Regions from separate parts of the Homo sapiens genome. Here region 1 is linked to region 2. The links come from fine-mapping of genetic effects on gene expression. Tissue or cell type: whole blood. Region 2 holds a variant in brackets; the other region holds the start of a gene. All regions are shown on one strand. Distances are from middle to middle.

The links. PIP is the estimated chance that this variant, and not a neighbour inherited with it, causes the effect.
Region 1: NME8 starts here. The variant in region 2 is fine-mapped to the expression of NME8 in whole blood (TOPMed, PIP above 0.99).

The regions. Positions count from the first base shown.
Region 1 is chr7:37,843,485-37,854,339 of GRCh38, forward strand. NME8 (NME/NM23 family member 8) reads left to right here and starts at 5,113. Exons shown (of 18, transcript NM_016616.5): 1 at 5,113-5,244; 2 at 5,340-5,572; 3 at 6,776-6,815; 4 at 6,894-6,951; 5 at 7,145-7,251. The coding sequence starts at 6,783.
Region 2 is chr7:37,797,856-37,808,710 of GRCh38, forward strand. No RefSeq gene overlaps it. Among named protein-coding and RNA genes, the nearest start is that of NME8, 45 kb to the right of the region's middle. RefSeq lists an enhancer at 5,755-6,255. The variant C/T (reference allele first, on the strand shown) is at 6,283.

The sequences.
Region 1 (10,855 bases), 46 kb after region 2:
CAAAAACACTTTTGTAAAAATCAATTGACTATATGGGATTTGCAGTAAAGAGTACTGTATATTTTATAATATATATTAAAAATGTGAAACATCATTTTAACAGTTAAATTCGTAATACTTTGTTGTATACATTTTTTTCCAAGAGAACTGGTTATTAACATTTACCAGCATACCACCGATTATGACTCTCAGGATGTCACAAGTTAATTTTTCCATTTTCTCACCCTTGCTTTTCTTATTTAGAAAGAACTGTGATCTTCCATAAATACAGCAAAAAAGGTAGTAAAAGGTAGAAAATAGTACATAAATTGCATTATGAATCAGTGCCTGGACTGCAGAGGGATGGCTACTGTTTTGGTTTATTGCAACTCGCTGAGTCTCTGAGCCAGAAAGCAGACAGGGAGGTCCAAAGCCTCTTTCTGATTAGTTTCAGGCTGGCAGATTTGCTCGGATATAGAAACTGCACAAAATGTTTATCTCAATCCAAACCCATCAATCTTGCAGTTCCCAACAGGTTGCAGTTGTAATAGGTTCACCCATTCTGTTTTATTATTATGAGTTTTTATTATTCTCAGTGCCTTAATTTCATATACAATGGGAAAAGAGAATATGTAATTTAGTATTATTATGCAGGTGACTTTTAAAATTGGAATTCAGAATCCGTGATTTTGATCTAGTGGAGATAGGAGAAATTTTTTAAAAGTTATATAAAGTTCTCCTGGATAGATGACTAGCTTACTTCTATCTCTAGCTGAAGTGATAAAATTAAAGTAAGTCCCTATACCATTTATTTTCTTTATAGTCTACTTAATTACCTGGACCAGATTTCTTCTTTTTTTAAGCATTGTGTCTTTATTTTATTAAACTTTAAAAATATTTTTCAACTTTTATTTTAGAAATGAGGGGTACACGTGCAGATTTATTGCATGAGAATATTGCATGATGCTGAGGTTTTGGGTACAAATCCCATCACTCAGGTAATGAGCATAGTACTTGGTAAGTAGTTTTTCAACCCACGTCTCCCTCGTTGTCTCCCACTTATAGTAATCTGCAGGTCTATTGTTCCAATATTTATGTCCATGTGTGCTCAGTGTTTAGCTTCCACTTACAAGGAACAACATGCAGTATTTGGTTTTCTGTTCCCACATTAATTCATTTAAGACTATAACCTCTAATTGCATCCATGTTGCTGCAAAGGATATGATTTCATTCTTTTTAATGGCTGCGTAGTATTCCATGGTGTATATGTTTATATACACATTTTCTTTATCCAGTGTACCATTGATGAGCACCTGGATTGATTCCATGTCTTTGCTATTGTGAATAGCTCAGTGATGAACATATGAATGCATTGTCTTTTTGGTAGAGTAATTTACTTTCCTTTGGGTGTATATCCAATAAGATTGCTGGGTCAAATTGTAGCTCTCTCCATTTTAAATTCTTTGAGAAATCACCAGACAGATTTCTTGGATTCAAAAATTAAGAATTTTGTTTATCTTCATTAAAGAGTACATAAATGTGTCAAGAATATCTGCTATTTCCAAATGCACTAGCTTGCTATCTAATTTTAAAGTGTTTATGCAAAAATGGTGATGCTAGGTGCCAGAGAGGATTTCAAGAGGAAGAGAGCAAAGCGAAAACAATTCTACAATCCAGTTCTTATTTTCTGGGTCTTCATATATATTTAGAAGTCATGAGAACACACAAATGAAACAATTAGGCACTAATAAACTTGTGCCCCAAGGAAAGCAAATTGAGCACTATACATAGTGCTGTGTGAGGGTAAGAAAAGGCAGGTCAATATAAGAGAGTACCTTTAATGAATGTTGAAAGATAAAGTCAAATATATTTAAGGAGCAAAACAAACTATTAGGTCCCTTCAAAAGTAACATCTCTCATAGGCTTTTTGGCAGTTATAGCTTACACTCTCCTATAATAAAATATACATTGTCTTGTAACCAACATTTTCAGAGAATTTGCCCTTAAAGTCAATTCTGGGCAGACCCAAGTCAAAGGCTCTTCAGGTTTATGTTTTAAAGCCTCAACATTCAAAGTTTTTGCAATTAGTAGTAATGATGTAAAAAAACAAAAAAACAAAAAAAACTAATTACACCTTCCTTCCATGTATTGGCCACTGGTAAATGTTTGTTCTAATTTGAGAATACATTGAAACTTCTTGCATCAAAGTGTTATATGAAGAATTTGCCTGAAATATTTGCATGAGCATTTCACCATGTGAACTATTGTGTTGAATCAAAGAAGAATCAAAAGTCAGTTTACTAACAGTCTGACTCTGGTGAAATAGCAATTATAGGAAATACATAAAACTTCTTTGAAAATAGCAGATGGTTTTAGACCCTTGAGGAATCGCCACACTGTCTTCCACAATGGTTGAAATAATTACACTCCCACCAACCGTGTAAAAGCGTTCCTATTTCTCCACATCCTCTCCAGCATCTGTTGTTTCCTGACTATTTTTAATGATCGCCATTCTAACTAGTGTGAGATGGTATCTCATTGTGGTTTCGATTTGCATTTCTCTAATGACCAGTGATGAAAAACTTTTGTTCATGTGTTTGTTGGCCTCACAAATATCTTCTTTTGAGAAGTGTCTGTTCATATCCTTTGCCCACTTTTGGATGGGGCTGTTTGTTTTTTTCTTGTAAATTTGTTTAAGTTCCTTGTAGATTCTGGATATTAGCCCTTTGTCAGATAGATGGATTGCAAGAATTTTCCCCCATTCTCTAGGTTGCCTGTTTACTCTGATGATAGTTTCTTTGGCTGTGCAGAGGCTCTTTAATTAGATCCCATTTGTCAATTTTGGCTTTTGTTACCATTTGACCCAGCAATCCCAGTACTGGGTATATATCCAAAGGATTATAAATCATTCTATTATAAAGACACATGCACATGTATGTTTATTGGAGCACTATTCACAATAGCAAAGACTTGGAACCAACCCAAATGCCCATCAACGATAGATTGGATAAAGAAAATGTGGCACATATATACCATGGAATACTATGTAGCCATAAAAAACGACGAGTTCATGTTTTTTGCAGGGACATGGATGAAGCTGGAAACCATCATTCTCAGCAAACTAACACAAGAACAGAAAACCAAACACCGCATGTTCTCACTCATAAGTGGAAGTTAAACAATGAGAACACGTGGGCATAGGGAGGGAAACATCACACACTGGGGCCTGTCAGGGGGTGGGGGGCTAGGGGAGGGATAGCATTAGGGGAAATACCTAATGTAGATGACAGGTTGATGGGTGCAGCAAACCACCATGGTATGTGTATATCTATGTAACAAACCTGCACTTTCTGCACATGTATCACAGAACTTAAAGTATAATAAAAAAAAAAAAAGGAAAGAAAATTGCAGATGGTGAAGTGAAGGAGTACTACATGTCCTGTCTTGATAGGATATGATCCTGGTCAAAAATCCTTCTGTAGGTAGCCGTGCTCATCTATTAGGTCCACTCCAGGGATGAGGATCCCTACAAAAAGGTTCATTGTGTCCCTCTCTACTCTACAGTTGCTTTCTGTATCTCAGCCTGTGGATTAATCAGAAACTATTGTGAAAAATTATTTCCAGATGCTGCAAGTGGGAGGGAGGAAGGAAAGTAAAGAGAAAAAGAACGAAAGAGAAAGAAAGAAAAAGAAGAGGAAGAAGAAGAAGAGGAAGAAGAAGAGGAAGAAGAAGAAGAAGAAGAAGAAGAAGAAGAAGAAGGAGACGGAGGAGACGGAGGAGACGGAGGAGACGGAGGAGGAGGAGGAGAAGGAGGGGAAGAGGAAGGAGAAGAGGAAGGAGAAGAGGAAGGAGAAGGAGAAGAAGAAGAAGACGAAGGAGACGAAGGACACGGAGGAGACGGAGGAGACAGAGGAGACAGAGGAGGAGGAGGAGAAGGAGGGGAAGAGGAAGGAGAAGAGGAAGGAGAAGAGGAAGGAGAAGTGGAAGGAGAAGAGGAAGGAGAAGGAGGAGGAGGAGAAGAAGAGGAAGAGGAAGAGGAAGAAGAAGAAAGAAGAAGAAGAAAGAAGAAGAAGAAGGAGAAAGAAGAAGGAGAAGGAGAAGGAGATGGAGGAGACGGAGGAGGAGGAGAAGGAGGGGAAGAGGAAGGAGAAGAGGAAGGAGAAGGAGAAGGAGAAGAAGAAGAAGAAGAAGGAGATGAAGGAGATGGAGGAGACGGAGGAGACGGAGGAGGAGGAGGAGAAGGAGGGGAAGGGGAAGGAGAAGAGGAAGGAGAAGTGGAAGGAGAAGAGGAAGGAGAAGAGGAAGGAGAAGGAGAAGGAGGAGGAGAAGAAGAGGAAGAGGAAGAAGAAGAAGAAAGAAGGAGAAGAAGAAGAAGAGGAAGAAGAAGAAGAAAGAAGAGGAAGAAGAAGAAAGAAGAGGAAGAGGAAGAGGAAGAAGAGGAAGAGGAAGAAGAAGAGGAAGAAGAAGAAGAGGAAGAGGAGGAAGAAGAGGAGGAGGAGGAGGAGGAAGAGGAGGAAGAGGAGGAGGAGGAGGAAGAGGGAGAGGAAGAAGAGGAAGAGGAAGAGGAAGAAGAAGAGAAAGAAGAAGAAGAAAAAGAAGAAGGAAGAAGAAGAAAGAAGAAGAAGAAAAGAAGAAGAAAAGAAGAAGAAGAAGAAAAGAAGAAGAAAAGAAGAAGGAAGACGAAGAAGAAGAGGAAGAGGAAGAGAGAAGAAAGAAGAAGAAGAAGAAGAAGAAGAGAAGAAGAAGAAGAAGAAGAAGAAGAAGAAGAAGAAGAAGAAGAAGGAAGAAGAAGAAGAAGAAGAAGAAGAAGAAGAAGAAGAACAAGAAGAAGAAGAAGAAGAAGAAGAAGAAGAAGAAGAAGAAGAAGAAGAAGAAGAAGAAGAAGAAGAACAAGAAGAACAAGAAGAACCAAACCAGGGTAGATGAAGACAAAGTTAAAAAGAAAGAAAAGGCTGGTGCTGGCAGAGAGCCTTCTGCTCCGATTTGAGGTGTATGCATTTTATGCTGTAAAGCGTGGCCAGTCACAGGAGGATTCAAAGGCGAGGAGAGATATGATCAAATCTGCACTTGGGAAAGCGCACCTTGGTGCGCATCTGGGGATAGAGGAACGTAGGGATGGGAGGATGGGGGATGGGAGTTTGGGGATGAGGCAGCTGAAGAACAGAGTCTTGTGATGGTGGAACCAGGACTTCGTTGTTCCTTCATTGTGTGGGCAGAAGAGGTGGAGGATTTTAGGCGCCACCTGGTCTTGTCCCCACTGCCCAGGTATAGCTGCTGTCTGGAGCAGGGGCCTCGAGACGCCGCTCAAGTCTCACGGGCAGATGGGTTGGACAAAACATTGCCCCCCTTCTTCTTCCCAGACAGGCAGGGAATCCCTCTTCTTCCTTTTGCTGAATCAGCTGGAGAAGAAAGCCCAGCAGGAGGCCTGCTAGCCTCAGCCTCGGGCCCTACCAGGGTCCTAGGTACTGGAATGGAACTTCGCCGAGGTCACCGCTCAAACGGCCACAACGAGGGAGCCGATTTAGATCCTCTGGGCCTGTTCCTTCCTTTTCTTTAAACGTCCCAGTCTAGCTTAGAGGAGGACCTGTTTTGTGTAAGGCTTGCCGGAGCAACCAGCACCTTTCCTGGAATACAGTCTTGTTTGTGGCTTTTCCTTTGTTGTACGCTAGCGTGCACTATCGCCCGCACGCTGACTGACCCCTGTTCTACACCGCCCCTGATACCACTGAATAGGGAGTTTGAGAAGTTTATGTCGTGCCCCAGAAAACACTAGTGGCCTTGTTCTCAAGATTAAATATCCTTAGAGCAGCCAGATCTGAAGAGGGACCCCAGAAAGATCCACGGGCATGTTCATTTGTTTGCAATTGATAATATAGGAAACACTTTCTAATATTTCAGGAAAACAAAACCTTTAAAAAAACCAGACGACGTGTAACTCCTAACATTCTTACCTTGCTTCAGGACTGTTGGGAGGATAAGATAGTGTGGCAGCTATAAGCATTTAGCATAGAGCCTAGCATACAATAGTCCTTCCATGACATTAGCTTCTCTCTCCCCAGCAAAGATGACACTGCATAATCCAATGTACAGTGGGGAAATTTTTCACTAGTACATTAAGATGTTATTTGCAGTTAGAAAGAATGAATACTGTAATCCCAGCACTCTGGGAGGCTGAGGTGGGAGGATCACGGGTCAGGAGGTTGAGACCATCCTGGTTAACACGGTGAAATTCTGTATCTACTAAAAATACAAAAAAAATTAGCCCGCCGTGGTGGCGGGTGCCTGTAGTCACAGGTACTCTGGAGGCTGAGGCAGGAGAATCGCTTGAACCCAGGAGACGGAGGTTGCAGTGAGCCCAGATTGTGCCACTGCACTCCAGTCTGGCAACAGAGTGAGACTATGTCTCAAAAAAAAAAAAAAAAAAAAAGAACAATGAATAAGACCTAGTATTTGCTAGCACAAACAGGTGACTGCAGTCAAAAAATCTAAATTGTACATTTTAAAATAACTAAAAGAGTATAATTGGATTGTTTGTAACACAAAGGATAAATGCTTGAGGTGATGGATACCCCATTTACCCTGATGTGATTATTATGCATGGCATGCCTGTATCAAAATATCTCAGATTTAAATACACAAATATTTAAGTACATAAATACAGAGATACATAAATATATACACCTACTATGTACCCACAAAAATTAAAAATTGTTTTAAAAGATGTTATTTGCATGCATAAAGAAAATGTTATTTAAATTTCCTACTTAAAAATTTTTCTTTCTTTTTCCTATGATAGTAGATAAATGGCAAGCAAAAAACGAGAAGTCCAGTTACAGGTGGGTCTGACATATCAACAATTCTTTATCTGGTGCACTAGTGCTTGAATACCTTTTACAGTGCCTTCCACTTTGCAGACAGTCATCAATAATCAAAGCCTGTGGGATGAGATGTTGCAGAACAAAGGCTTAACAGGTATAAGGACTCCCCGGCTGTCTGGCCACCTGGGGTTTGACCCGGAGCTCCTCCTGGCACCCTGTCCCTCTAGAGTCCCCACTTTGACCAAGAAATCCTGCAGTGCCTTTGCCCTGGCCATGGCTCCAGATTGGGATAACTGCTATCCTAGATTGGTAGACTTTGTTATTTCATAAATATCATCATCTTCTAGTGATTGATGTTTACCAAGCCTGGTGTGGACCTTGCAGAGCAATGCAACCTTTATTCAGAAAATTGAAAAATGAACTGAACGAAGACGAAATTCTGCATTTTGCTGTCGTAAGAATTTTGTTTTCATTAAACCACTGTTTTCACATTATATTAAGTTTTTAAGTATCCTCTAATACTTTAAGTATTGTCTTAATTTAAACAACCTGTCAGTTCTTCAAAATAGATAGTCTTTACTTGGCAGTTTTACTATATATTTAATTCTACTAGATCTGAGAATGAATATGATTTTTATCCCATTCTTATAACGTCGAGGCTATTTACCATGACTGTGAAAGTCAGAAAAGTGTAATAATGGACACATCTATTGTTCTGTTTCCTTTCACCTGACCACATGTTCAGTGTGTGTCCTTTAGAATAAGGGCTACAAAAGCTGTTTACTGGGTATCATTGAGTAGTGCCCTGGCATTAACCCAGTTACCATATTTTCCAGTGGCAATGATTTTTCCTCATTTATTTGCTACCTACTTGCAATAAGGGATTAAAATATTATAGCCAAACACATTTTACTGAATTGTACTGTTTTTTCAATCTATTCACATAAAATGATCAACTAATTAGAATTTCGTTGTCCAACATGGTAGCTACTAGGCATAAGTGACTATGGAGCTCTTGCAATGTAGCTGGTCCAACTGAGGAGCTCAATTTTTAATTTTAATGAATTTAAATCTGGATTTTCAAACTGATACTCCATTGAGTTATTGTAAAACTTTTAAAATCTGGGATAACTTGAGTATGTGAATCTACTACTTAACTGTAAATGTTATTAAAGCTAATTAAGGATTAATTATTTCTGATTAACATTTAGCATATGAATTAAGACATACTCAAGTGTAAGAGACACATTAGATTTTAAAAATTTAATATGGAAAAAGAAAGTGAAATATGCCATCAATAATTTTATACATTGATTACATGTTGAAATGATAATATTTTGGATGTATCGGGTTAAGTAAAATTTATTATCACATTATTTTCACCTTTTTTTGTTTTTAAATGTCCCTACTGGAGAATTTATATGTGTGGCTTATATAATATATTTATATTATATAGAAAAGCTCCCAAACCAACTAGACTTAAGATACAGGAGCAGATAACAGATGATAACAGATCTTTACTCCTTATCTCTGAAATACATAGTTCCTAATGCAGACATGCAACCACAACCCACTCATGTTCTCCCAGTTACAGGTCTTTCATGGCCCCTTTCAACCCAAACATTGGAATGGGTTTGCCTACTGACCTTGTATTTCACTATCCATCCCCTTCTTTAAATGCATTTTCCATAGGACTTATTTTCCTTAGTTCAAGATGATGAATAAGCAGTTTAAAGCCTAGACACTCACCTCTTATTATTTTTCTATTCAAGAGAGTAAGTGGCTGTCTACAGTAGTTAAATCCTGTTGTCCTGGTGAAGGAATTGACTTTTTTTTTTTGTCTTCTGAAATAAGGACTTTGTAAGGTTTTCATTCCTTTAATTTTTTAAAAAATGTCTTTATATAGATGTTATTTTTAGAGCAGTTTTAGGCTCATAGCAAAATTTACCAGGAAGTAAAGAGTTCTCATATATCCCCTATCCCCACACTCTCATAGCCTTTTCCACCATCAAAATCCCACATCAGAGTGGTACATTGTTACAACGGATTAGCCTACACTGGCACATCATTATTTACCAAAAGCCGTAGTTTACATTAAAGTTCATTCTCGGTGTTGTACATTTTAGGGAGTTTAACAAATGTGTAATGACATGTACTTACTATATTATGGCATCATATAGTATAGTTTCATTCCCAGCAAAATCCTCTGTAATCTGTTCATCTCTCCCTACCTCATAACCTCTGGCAACCACCAATCTTTTGACTACCTCCATAGTTTTCCCTTTTCCAGAATGTCATATAGTTAGAATCACATAGTGTGGAGCCTTTTCAGATTGGCTTCTTTTACTTAGTGATATGCGCCATGTCTTTTAATGATTTGATAGCTCATTTCTTTTTAGTGTCAAATAATACTTCATTATCTGGATATACCAGGGTTTATTTATCCATTCACCTGCTGAAGAACATCTTGGTTGCTTCCAACTTTTAGCAGTTAGGAAAAGGCTGCTATAAGCATCCATGCTTAGGTTTTTGTATGAACATACTACACTTTCAACTCATTTGGGTAAATACCAAGGAGTAAGATTGCTGGATCATGTGGTAATGATATGTTTTATTTTGTAAGAAACCACCAAATCTTCCTAAGCAGCTGTACCATTTTGCATTCTTACCAACAATGAATGAGAGTTTCTGTTGGTCCACATTCTCACCAGCATCTGTTCTCTGGATTTTGGTCATCCTAATAAGTGTGTAGTGGAATCACTTTGTAGTTTTAGTTTGCGTTTCCCAAGATTATGTGAGGTGGAGCATCTTTATATATACTTATTTGCCATCTGTATATCTTCTTTGAGGAGGTGTCTGCTAAGGATTTTGGCTTATTTTTTTAATTGGGTTGTTTGTTCTCTTATTGTTGAGTTTCAAGTATTCTGTGTATTTTGAATAACAGTCTTTTATCAGGTATTACTTTTGCAAATAGTTTATCCCAGTCTGTGGCTGGTTTTTTCATTCTCTTGTCATTGTAGTTTTTTTAAAGACGAGATTCTGTAACAACCTGTTTCACTCTGGAGAATCACAACCACCAGAAAGGAGCTAGGAAATTATTCTAGACTTGATTCTTCACAGAGAAGAAAAATCAAGTTAGAAGACCAGAGAATAGAGCCTAAAGGAGATTGCCACATGCAGTTGGAAAGGGGTTGATAGAAGTTAAAATACAGTATCACAAGTGTCTAACAGCTGACAGATGGATCACAGGGAATTGAGGATCAGGAAATTCTTGTGAATCCTGGCAGTTGGCATTAGGAAAGTGGCAGTAGACGTTCACATAGACTAGGGGTTCCAGATTCTGGTGACCTGCCCATAAAGGTGAAAGAAAATTATATCTCCAAACCTCCATTGTGAGCAGCAATGGAGGGATGCCCTCTGCCGGACATATTGTTTTCTGCTGTTAATCAAGGAAGAACTTGAACATGTAGGTCCAAAATTAAAATGTATGAGGTTATTTCCTATTAAAATTGCCCTGAGCTGAATGGTCAGTATACAATTTTTTTCTGCTGTGTGCCTTTTTAAAAGAGGAACATTAAATATTTTATATATATAGAGAGAGGCATATAAAAATTTAGTTAATAGTGTTTATTATAGTTACTGTTATATTATTATTAAATTATTTAATCCTTAATAATTTATGTATTATAATATAAACATTATAATTATAATACCTGAATTACTTCTAAATAGAGTTGACCCTTACCAATGCTGGAGTTAGGGGTGCTAACCCCCCACGTAGTAAAAAATTCATATATGACTTTTGACTCCACCAAAAGCTTAACTACTAATAACCTACTGTTGACTGGAAACCTTATGGGTAACATAAACAGTCGATTGATACATATTCTGTATGTTATGTGTATTATATACTATATTCTTGCAATAAAGTAAGCTAGAGGAAAGAAAATAGTATTAAGAAAATTATAAGGAAAACAAAATATATTTACTATGCATTAAGTGGAAGTGGATTACCATAAAATTCTTCATCCTCATCATCTTAACATTGAGTAGGTTGA
Region 2 (10,855 bases):
CCTCCCCTTTTACTGACTTCTTATTAATAGAACAAGGCAGAGTGATGGAATGTCATTTCCAAGGTTAGGTTACAAAAAAGCTGTGGCTTCCATCTCGAGCACTCTTTCTGTCTTTCTTGGATTGCTTCACTCTGGAGGAAACCAGGTCATAAGGCAGCCCTATGGAGAAGCCCATGTGGCAAATAATTGAGGCCTTCTACTAGCCATGCGAGTGAGCTTAGAAGTGGATCTTCTGAGACCTACCAATAGCTGTGGAGCAAGCTCAGAAGCAGATCCTCTCCCACCTCTCCCATTTGAACCTTGAGATGTTGGCAGCCTGGCTGGGAATTGATTGGTGCTTCATGATAGACCCTAAGCCAGAACCACTCCGCTAAGCTGCTGCTAGATTCCTGACTTGAAACTTGTTGTTTTAAGTCCTCATGTCTTGGAGTAACGTATTATGCAGCAATAGATAACGAATATAGTAAGTTATTTACACCTATAGAATGCTGCCACATAAGACACTAGTGTCTGACATTTACAACCTGCTTCTTAGTCTCTGCTTATTCCAGTTGCTGATGATAAAAATATATCCTTGCCTGTTGTTTGAGTCAATAAGAACTGTGCCTGGTACTGTATTAGAAGTTTTACTTCTATGCCTGAAAAGTAGGGGTATGAGCATATAATGTACATGGAGATACACTGGGCTCATTTAGAGTAAAGATTGCAAGGGGGTCAGTTGAAGAGTGGGTAAGAATTGCTCTGTTAGTCATGTTGAAATCTGGACCATTGGTTCTCCATATGTGGCCCTGGACCATCACTACCAGCAGCAGTAGCACCTATGACCTTGTTAGAAGTGAAAATTCTAAGAAGGAAAAATCAGTGGAGCTCCACCTGAGACCCACTGATTCAGAAATTCTGGGTGTGGGTTAGAGGTTCAACAAGCCCTCCAGGTGATTTTGATGCAGGCTAAAATCTGAGAACCACTGCACTGGATTAAGTTGATAAATTGAAAATGGGCACAAATTCTTTGAAACTGCTCCAATTGAGAGGTGGAATTTATATCTCCTATAATTTACTATGGGTGGAATTTGTTATTGCTTCAACCAATAGAACACAAGGAAAGTGGTGCTGTGCCAATTCTCAGCTGCAGGTTTTAAGAAACTAGCAACCTCCGCTTCCTGTCTCTTGAAGCATGGGTTCTTGGAGCCTGAACTCCATGAAAGAAGTCTGACTTGCATGCTGCAGAACATCTAGAGATGCCTGAGATTACATGGAGATACATGGAGATGTGCCCAGATATAGCCAGACTTCCAGTGAAGGCACCAGGCACGTAAACGAAGAAGCTGTCTTGGGCCCTCCAGAACAACCTATCTGCCATGGGAATACCACTATCTGACCTCAGCCCACACAACATGGCGCAGAAGAATTGCCCACTCAATACTGCCTAAATTCCTGATCCACACAATTATGAGAGAAATCGTTGCTTTAAACCACTAGATTCTAGGATTATTTGTTACATAAAAATAGATAATTGCCACATGTATTATTTAAAATTTTCTACTTACCATATTAAAAATTTTAAAAGGAAGAGGCAAAATCCACAATAATAATAATATAATTTGTTTAACCCATTATATCTAGCTAGCTATCAATCATCTACTTTTCTTTCTATTTATCTATTCTAGCTTTCTTTCTTTTATGGATTCTGACTTTGGTGCTGTCTTTAAAAAGTAGTCACCAAACCCAGGGTAATGTAGATTTTTTCCTATGTTATCTTCTGGTAGTTTTAAACTTTTGTGTTTTACATTTACGTATGTGATCCATTTTGAATTAGCTTTTGCGAAGGGTGTGAAATCTGAATCTAGATTCATATTTTTTGCATGTGGATGTCCAATTGTTTCAGCAACATTTGTTGAAAAGGCTAGCATTTCTTCATTGCATTGCATTTTCTTCTTTGTCAAAGATCAATTGACTCTATTTATGTGGGTCTATTTCTGGCCTCTCTTTTTCATTGATCTGTTTGCCTATACTTTTGCCAGTACCACACAAACTTAATTACTATAGCTTTGTAATATGTCTTAAAGTCAGGCACTCTTCATCCTCCAATTTTGTGCTTCTCCTTCATTGTGCTGGCTATTCTGGGTCTTTTGCCTTTCCACATAAATCTTAGAATAACTTTGTTGATATCCACAAAATAACTTGCTGGAATTTTAATTGGGATTGTGTTGATCCTATAAATCAAGTTAGGAAGAACTGATGTCCTGACAATATTGAGTCTGCCTCTCCGTAAACACAGAATATCTCTTCATTTACTGGGCTCCTCTTTGATTTCTTTCATCAGCTTTCCTCATGTAGATCTTGCACATATTTTGTTAGATTTACACAAAAGTGTATCATTTTGGGGGGCACAAATGTAAATGTTATTGCGTTTTTAATTTAAAATTCCACCTTTCATTACTGGTATATAGAAAACAGATTGACTTTTGTATAATACCCATGCATCCTGCAGCCTTGCTGTGCTTATTAGTTTTAGGAGGTTTTATTATCTGGTTTGTTCTTTCTGACTTTCTACATAGATGACTGTCATTTGTGAACAAAGATGGTTTTTATTTCTCCTTGCCCGTCAGTATGCTTTAAAAAAAAACTTCGTTTATTTGGTTAGCTAGGACTTCCAGTATGATACTGAAAAGAAGTGGTAAGAAGACCATCCTTGCCGTGTTCACAATCTTAGTGGGAAAGTTTCTCATTTCTTATCGTTACGTGTAATGTTAGCTGTCAGTTTTTTGATAAATATTGTAGGGGAGGCAAAATTTTACCTCTACCCTTGTAAAGTCCCAGTTAAGCCTGAGAATTAAATTGACTTAAGAGAGTAATGGGAGAGAAGCATACAAATTGAATTTAAATTTTACATGATATGGAGTCCTCATAAGGAAATGATGATCCAAAGAAGTGGCGAGTTTGTATGCTTTTATATTAGGTTGAACAAAGAGAGGTAGTCATGGAAAAGTAACTAAATTATATGGGGAGGCTAATGGAAGGTAGAAAAGGTAGAATTATTTTAACAGGATTTGTTTGCCCAGAATTCTCTGGATATGATTCTCTATTGAAGGATGTTTCTTTTCTCCTGCTATAGAGGGGGCATCTTCCCTATGAGTTTTTCTCTTCTGTTTTCAGGAAGAAAAGGGGAAGATTAGAATGCCTTCTTGCAAATGATGTTTTTTAAGTGCCTTTAGTCTGAAGTAATACTATGTCAAAGTGGCATATTTTGAGGTGGCGTGTTATGTCACCCTTCAATATTCCTTATCTAGTGTCCTCTATTCCTAGTTTACTGACAGCTTTATTGTGAAAGCATCTTGAAATTTATAATGATTTTTATGTATCCATTGATATCATCATGTGATTTTTCTTCTTTAGATTGCTGATGTGATGAATTACATTAATTAATTTTTGAATGTCGAACCAGTTGCCCACCAGGGATAAATCTCACTATGGGTGTGATATATAATTCTTGTTATTCATTGCTGGATTTGATTTGTTAATATTCTGCTGAGGACTTTTGCGTCTATGATCATAAGAGATATTGGTCTGTAGTTCTGTTTTCTTGCAGTGCCTTTGTCTGGTTTGACTATTATGGTGATGTTGACCTCATACAATGAGTTAGGAAGTATTCCCTCTGTTTCTATATTCTGGAAGAGATTGTAGAGGATTGGTATAATTTCTTCCTTAAATGTATGGTAAAATTTAACAGTGAACCCATCTGGGCCTGGTGCTCTCTGTTTTGAAATATTATTAATTATTGATTCAATTTCTTTAATAGATATAGTCCTATTTAGATTGCCTCTTTCTTCTTGCTTTGTCAGATTGTGTCTTTCAAGGACTTGGTCCCTTTCGTCTACCTTATCAAATTTGTGTTCATGCAGTTGATTATAATATTTCTTGATTATCCTTTTATTGTCTATGGGATCTCCAGTGATGTCTCCTCTTTCACTTCTGATATGAAGAATTTTTTTTTTTGATTGACCTAGCTAGAATCTTACCTATTTTCTAGGTCTTTTCAGAGAACGAGCATTGGGTTTCATTGATTTTTTCCTGTTAATTTCCTATCTTCAACTGTGTTGATTTATGTTGTAATTTTCATTATTTCTTTTTTTCTGATTACCTTGAATTTAATTTGCTCTTCCTTTTCTAGTTTCCTAAGATAGAAGCTTAGATGATTGATATTAGATCTCCCTTCTTTTCTAATATATGCATTCAATGCTATAAATTTCCCTTTAAGAACTGCTTCTCCTGCACCCCTCAAACATTTATAAGTTGTGTTTTCATTTCAATTTAGTTCAAAAATTTTTAAATTTCTTTTGAAATTTCTCTTTTGACTCATGTGTTATTTAATTTTGTTTGATTTCCATGTAGTTTAGGATTTTCCAATTATCTTTCTGTTATTGATTTCTAGTTTAATTTCACTGTGATATACACCAGATATTACATGACATTTCTATTATCTTTGATCTCTTAAAATGTGCTTTATGGCCAAGAATGTGGTCTATTTTGGTTAATATTTCACATGAGCTTGAGAAGAAAGTATATTCGGCTGTTGTTGTAGAGAGTTACAGATGTCCAGATGATTGATGTTGCTGTTGAGTAAAACTATGTCCTTGCTGATTTTGTGCCTGCTGGATCTGTTCATTTCTGATAGGAGGTACTGAAATCTTCCTCCATAATGGTAGATTAACCTATTTCTCCTTCCAGCATAATTAGTTTTTGCCTCATGTATTTTTACTCTGTTAGGCACATACATGTTAAGGATTGTTCTGTCTTTTTGGGTAATTGATTTCTTTATTATTAAGTAATGTCCTTCTTTACCCTTCCTAACTTTCCTTGTTTTGAAGTCCATTGTGCCTGAAATTAATACAGTGATTCCTGCTTTGTTTTCATTAGTGTTAGTATGGCATATTTCTCCTTTTCCCTTCCCTTCCCTTCGCTTCCCTTTCCTTTCCATCCCTTCCCTTTCTTTCTCTCTCTCTCTCTTTTTTTTTTTTTTTTTGGCAAGTTTTTGCTCTGTTACCCAAGCTGGAGTGATCATGGCTCACTGCAGCCTCAACCTCCTGGGCTCAAGTGATTCTCCTGCCTCAGCCTTTTAAGTAGCTGGGACTACAGGCACATCCCACCACATGCAGGTTTTTTTTGTTTTTTTTTTTTTTTAATGGAGACAAGGTCTCACTATGTTGCCCAGGCTGGTCTCGAACTCCTGAACTCAAGCAGTCCCCCTGTCTTGGCCTCCAAAAGTGCTGGGATTACTGGTGTGAGCCACCACACCTGGCCCATCCATCTACTTTTAATCTATGTGTCATTATATTTAAAGTGGGTTTCTTGTAGACAACATGTAGTTGTGTCATTTTTTTTTCATCCACTCTGCCAATCTCTGTCTTTCAACTGGTTATTTTATACCATTGACATTGAAAGTGATTATTGATATAGTTGAATTAATATTTACCATATTTAGTGTTTTCTATTTGTTGTTTTTGGTTCTTTGTTCTTATTTTGTCTTTCACTCTTTCTCTGCCTTTTGTGGTTTTAATTGAACACTTTATATGTTTCCATATTCTCTCCTCTCTTAGCATATCAGTTATGCCTTTTTTCACTTATTTTAGTGGTTGCCTTAGAGTTTGCAATATACATGTATAACTATTTCAAGGCAACTTCCAAAAACACTGTACTATTTCACAGCTAGTGCAGGTACCTTATAATAACAAAATAATTCAAACTCCTCCCTTCTATCCCTTGTATCACTGCTGTCATTCATTTTACTTGTATGTAAGCATATATAAGCACAGATAGACATATATGCATAAGATATACACATAAGTATACATAATTGAATGCATAGTTGCTATTATTATTTTAAACAAACTGTGCTGTGGAGTGAATGAAGACACTGATTGTTTTGCTTGTACCTCCAGCACACTGAAGCCACCATATTCAAAGGAGTCCAGTCTGTCTTCCTGGTGAGCCCCTGACCTCTCTGCTCTTCATCCCCTGGCTTGGACCTGCAGCACAGCCATCCTACTTCCACCTGAATGTTCTCATTGGCAGCAGCTCCATGTCTTTCTGGGGTGGAGTTCCCCGAGGCAACTGACAGCCCCCTATAACTGCCACTGCAGTGGATGCCCACCCTTGCTGCCACCAGACTGGGCAAGGAACAAAGAGCCCGAGTGCTTTATTCACACCTCCATGCCACAGCTGCTCTATGGAGAAGAGGCCAGACTGATTTTACAGCAAGCCTCCAATCCTCCAGCTCTTCAC[C/T]GGGAAGGGCCGCCTGGCTTGAGGCCCACAATGCAGCTGCCCCACCCCCAGCTGATCATTTTGATTGGTAGCAGCTCTGTGCTTCTCTGGGGTGAATCCTTCAAAGACAAGTGAAAGGCCCTCTGCCATTGCCACTGTCAAGGTCCCCACCCCTGCCACCCCCAAGCTAGGGAGAGAACAAAAAGCTTGAGTTCACAAAGGGGCTACAGTGCACAGCCTGGGAGTGCCAAGCTGAGATATATGGCCAACACTTGAGTGGGAGAGGGGCCCACACTCTCAGAGCACTGAGAGAGAGCATAGCTGCAATTGAGGAAATACAGAGGAACCATGTGGCTGGGTAAGAGCCTATCTACCAGCCATTACGGTTAAGTGCCATCTACTGGATGGAAGCCCAAACTTTAACACCAAAAATACATTGCTAACATACCTCCCCATAAAATTAAGGACAAGAATTCAGCCACAAATAAAGACCCTGCACAAAGCATCAGCCCTCTGAAAACATCCAGAAACAAATTCAACTGACTGTACTCAAATTACACCACAGTTAAAGGCACATCAGCCCACACAGATGAGCAAAAACGCAGGGAACTCTAAAAGCCAGAGTGTTTTCTTATTCCCAAATGACCACACTAGCTCCTCAATGATGTAGGAGTTAAAAAGAAATTACTTAGGCAGACAGTGAGGTAAGAAAGTCTTTAGTAAGGTTTTCCTTTTAATGAAAAGCAGCCCCCAAATCATTTTCTTTTCTAACAAAGAGCAACCTGTAAAATCGAGCTGCAGACATAGAAAGGCAAGCTAGAAGTTTGCACGGGGAAGTGATGGCAGCTATGCCAGTAGGAAAGGAGCTACCTGGGGACTAGGCATGTTCAAAATGTCAGCTCCTTCTTTCCTTTTCTTTGCCAAACCATATGTACAGTAAGGCGAAGACAACATGGCGCTGACAGGGCAAATATCCCATTTGCATAATAAGATTAGGGTGGGGAAGCCAGCTTCCTCACATGCTATGTAAATGTCACCCTAGTCTAATCAATCTTTGGGTCCTATGTAAATCAGACACCGCCTCCTCAAGCTTTTTTATAAAATCCTGAGCACTCCACTGTGGGCCAGAAGTCCCATTTGGGCACCCCTCTCTAAAGCAGGAGAGAGAAGTGTTCTCCTTTTTCTTTCTTTTGCCTGTTAAACCTCCGCCCCTAAACCTACCTCTTGCATATGCATACTTGATTTCCTTGGCATGAGATGATGAACCTTGGTTATTTACCCCAGACAATGATGCCGCTTCACCAGTGATGGTTCTCAACCAGAATGAAATGGCTAAAATGACAGACATAGAATTAAGAATCTGGATAGCATTGAAGATCATTGAGATTCAGGAGAAAATTGAAACTCAATCCAAGGAATCTAAGAAATCCAGTAAAGTGATTCAAGAGGTGAAAGGCAAAATAGGTATTTTAAGAAAGAACAAAACTGATCTGATAGGGCTGAGAAACTCACTAAAAGAATTTCATGACACAATCAGAAGTATTAACAGTGGAATAGACCAAGCTGAGAAATGAATCTCAGAGCTCAAAGCACAGTTCTTCAAATTATTTTAATTTCAAACTATTTTAGTCAGACAAAAATAAAACAACAAAGAATTTTTAAAATGAACAAAACCTTTGAGGAATGTGGGACTGTGTATAGAGACCAAACCTACAACACATTGGCACCCCTGAAAGAGAGAGAGAGAGAGACCAAGCAACATAGAAAACAAATTTGAGGATATTATCCACAAAAATGTCTCCAACCTCACTAGATAAGTCAACATTCAAATTCAGGAAATTCAGAGAACCTCTGTGAGCTACTTTACAAGACAAACATCCCCAAGACACATAGTCATCAGATTCTTCAAGGTCAATGCAAAAGAAATTATGTTAAGGCAGCTAGAAAGAAGGGGCAGGTTAACTATAAAGGGAACCCCACAACATTAACAATAGACCTTTCAGCAGAAACCCTACAAGTCAGAAGAGATTGGGGGCCTATATTCAGCATTCTTAAAGAAAAGAAATTCCAAGCAAGAATTTCATATCCAGCCAAACTAAGCTTCATAAGTGAACGAGAAATAAAATCTTTTTCAGATAAGCAAATGCTAAGGGAATTAGTTACCACTAGACCCGCCTTACAAGAGTTGCTTAAGGGAGTGCTAAATATGGAAGTGAAAGACCACTAATGGCCACCACAAAAACATACTTAAGTACATAGACTATTTACACTGTAAAGCAACTACACAATCAAGTCTACCTAACAACCAAGAACATGATGACAGGATCAAATCAGCACACATCAATATTAACCTTGAATGTAAACAGGCTAAACACCTCACTTCAAAGGCAGACTGGCAAATTGGATAAAGAAACAGGACTCATAGATAGCTCTTATTATTTTGAGATACGTCCCATCAATACCTAATTTATTGAGAGTTTTTAGCATGAGGGGTTGTTGAATATTGTCAAAGGCCTTTTCTGCATCTATTGAGATAATCATGTGGTTTTTGTCTTTGGTTCTGTTTATATGCTGGATTACATTTATTGATTTGCGTATATTGAACCAGCCTTGCATCCCAGGGATGAAGCCCACTTGATCATGGTGGATAAGCTTTTTGATGTGCTGCTGGATTCGGTTTGCCAGTATTTTATTGAGGATTTTTGCATCAATGTTCATCAAGGATATTGGTTTAAAATTCTCTTTTTCAGTTCTGTCTCTGCCCGGCTTTGGTATCAGGATGATGCTGGCCTCATAAAATGAGTTAGGGAGGATTCCCTCTTTTTCTATTGATTGGAATAGTTTCAGAAGGAAGGTACCAGTTCCTCCTTGTACCTCTGGTAGAATTCGGCTGTGAATCCATCTGGTCCTGGACTCTTTTTCGTTGGTAAGCTATTGATTATTGCCACAATTTCAGCTCCTGTTATTGGCCTATTCAGAGATTCAACTTCTTCCTGGTTTAGTCTTGGGAGAGTGTATTTGTCTAGGAATTTATCCATTTCTTCTAGATTTTCCAGTTTATTTGCATGGAGGTGTTTGTAGTATTCTCTGATGGTAGTTTGTATTTCTGTGGGATTGGTGGTGATATCCCCTTTATCATTTTTTACTGCGTCTATTTGATTCTTCTCTCTTTTTTTCTTTATTAGTCTTGCTAGCGGTCTATCAATTTTGTTGATCCTTTCAAAAAAACAGCTCCTGGATTCATTAATTTTTTGAAGGGTTTTTTGCATCTATTTCCTTCAGTTCTGCTCTGATTTTAGTTATTTCTTGCCTTCTGCAAGCTTTTGAATGTGTTTGCTCTTGCTTTTCTAGTTCTTTTAATTGTGATGTTAGGGTGTCAATTTTGGATCTTTCCTGCTTTCTCTTGTGGGCATTTAGTGCTATAAATTTCCCTCTACACACTGCTTTGAATGTGTCCCAGAGATTCTGGTATGTTGTGTCTTTGTTCTCATTGGTTTCAAAGAACATCTTTATTTCTGCCTTCATTTCATTATGTACCCAGTAGTCATTCAGGAGCAGGTTGTTCAGTTTCCATGTAGTTGAGCGGTTTTGAGTGAGTTTCTTAATCCTGAGTTCTAGTTTGATTGCACTGTGGTCTGAGAGATAGTTTGTTATAATTTCTGTTCTTTTACATTTGCTGAGGAGAGCTTTACTTCCAACTATGTGGTCAATTTTGGAATAGGTGTGGTGTGGTGCTGAAAAAAATGTATATTCTGTTGATTTGGGGTGGAGAGTTCTGTAGATGTCTATTAGGTCCGCTTGGTGCAGAGCTGAGTTCAATTCCTGGGTATCCTTGTTGACTTTCCAATATCATACTGAATGGGCAAAAACTGGAAGCATTCCCTTTGAAAACTGGCACAAGACAGGGATGCCCTCTCTCACCACTACTATTCAACATAGTGTTGGAAGTTCTGGCCAGGGCAATCAGGCAGGAGAAGGAAATAAAGGGTATTCAATTAGGAAAAGAGGAAGTCAAATTGTCCCTGTTTGCAGACGACATGATTGTATATCTAGAAAACCCCATTGTCTCAGCCCAAAATCTCCTTAAGCTGATAAGCAACTTCAGCAAAGTCTCAGGATACAAAATCAATGTACAAAAATCACAAGCATTCTTACACACCAATAACGACAAACAGAGAGCCAAATCATGAGTGAACACCCATTCACAATTGCTTCAAAGAGAATAAAATACCTAGGAATCCAACTTACAAGGGACATGAAGGACCTCTTCAAGGAGAACTACAAACCACTGCTCAAGGAAATAAAAGAGGATACAAACAAATGGAAGAACATTCCATGCTCATGGGTAGGAAGAATCAATATCGTGAAAATGGCCATACTGCCCAAGGTAATTTATAGATTCAATGCCATCCCCATCAAACTACCAATGACTTTCTTCACAGAATTGGAAAAAACTACTTTAAAGTTCATATGGAACCAAAAAAGAGCCTGCATTGCCAAGTCAATCCTAAGCCAAAAGATCAAAGCTGGAGGCATCACGCTACCTGACTTCAAACTATACTACAAGGCTACAGTAACCAAAACAGCATGGTAC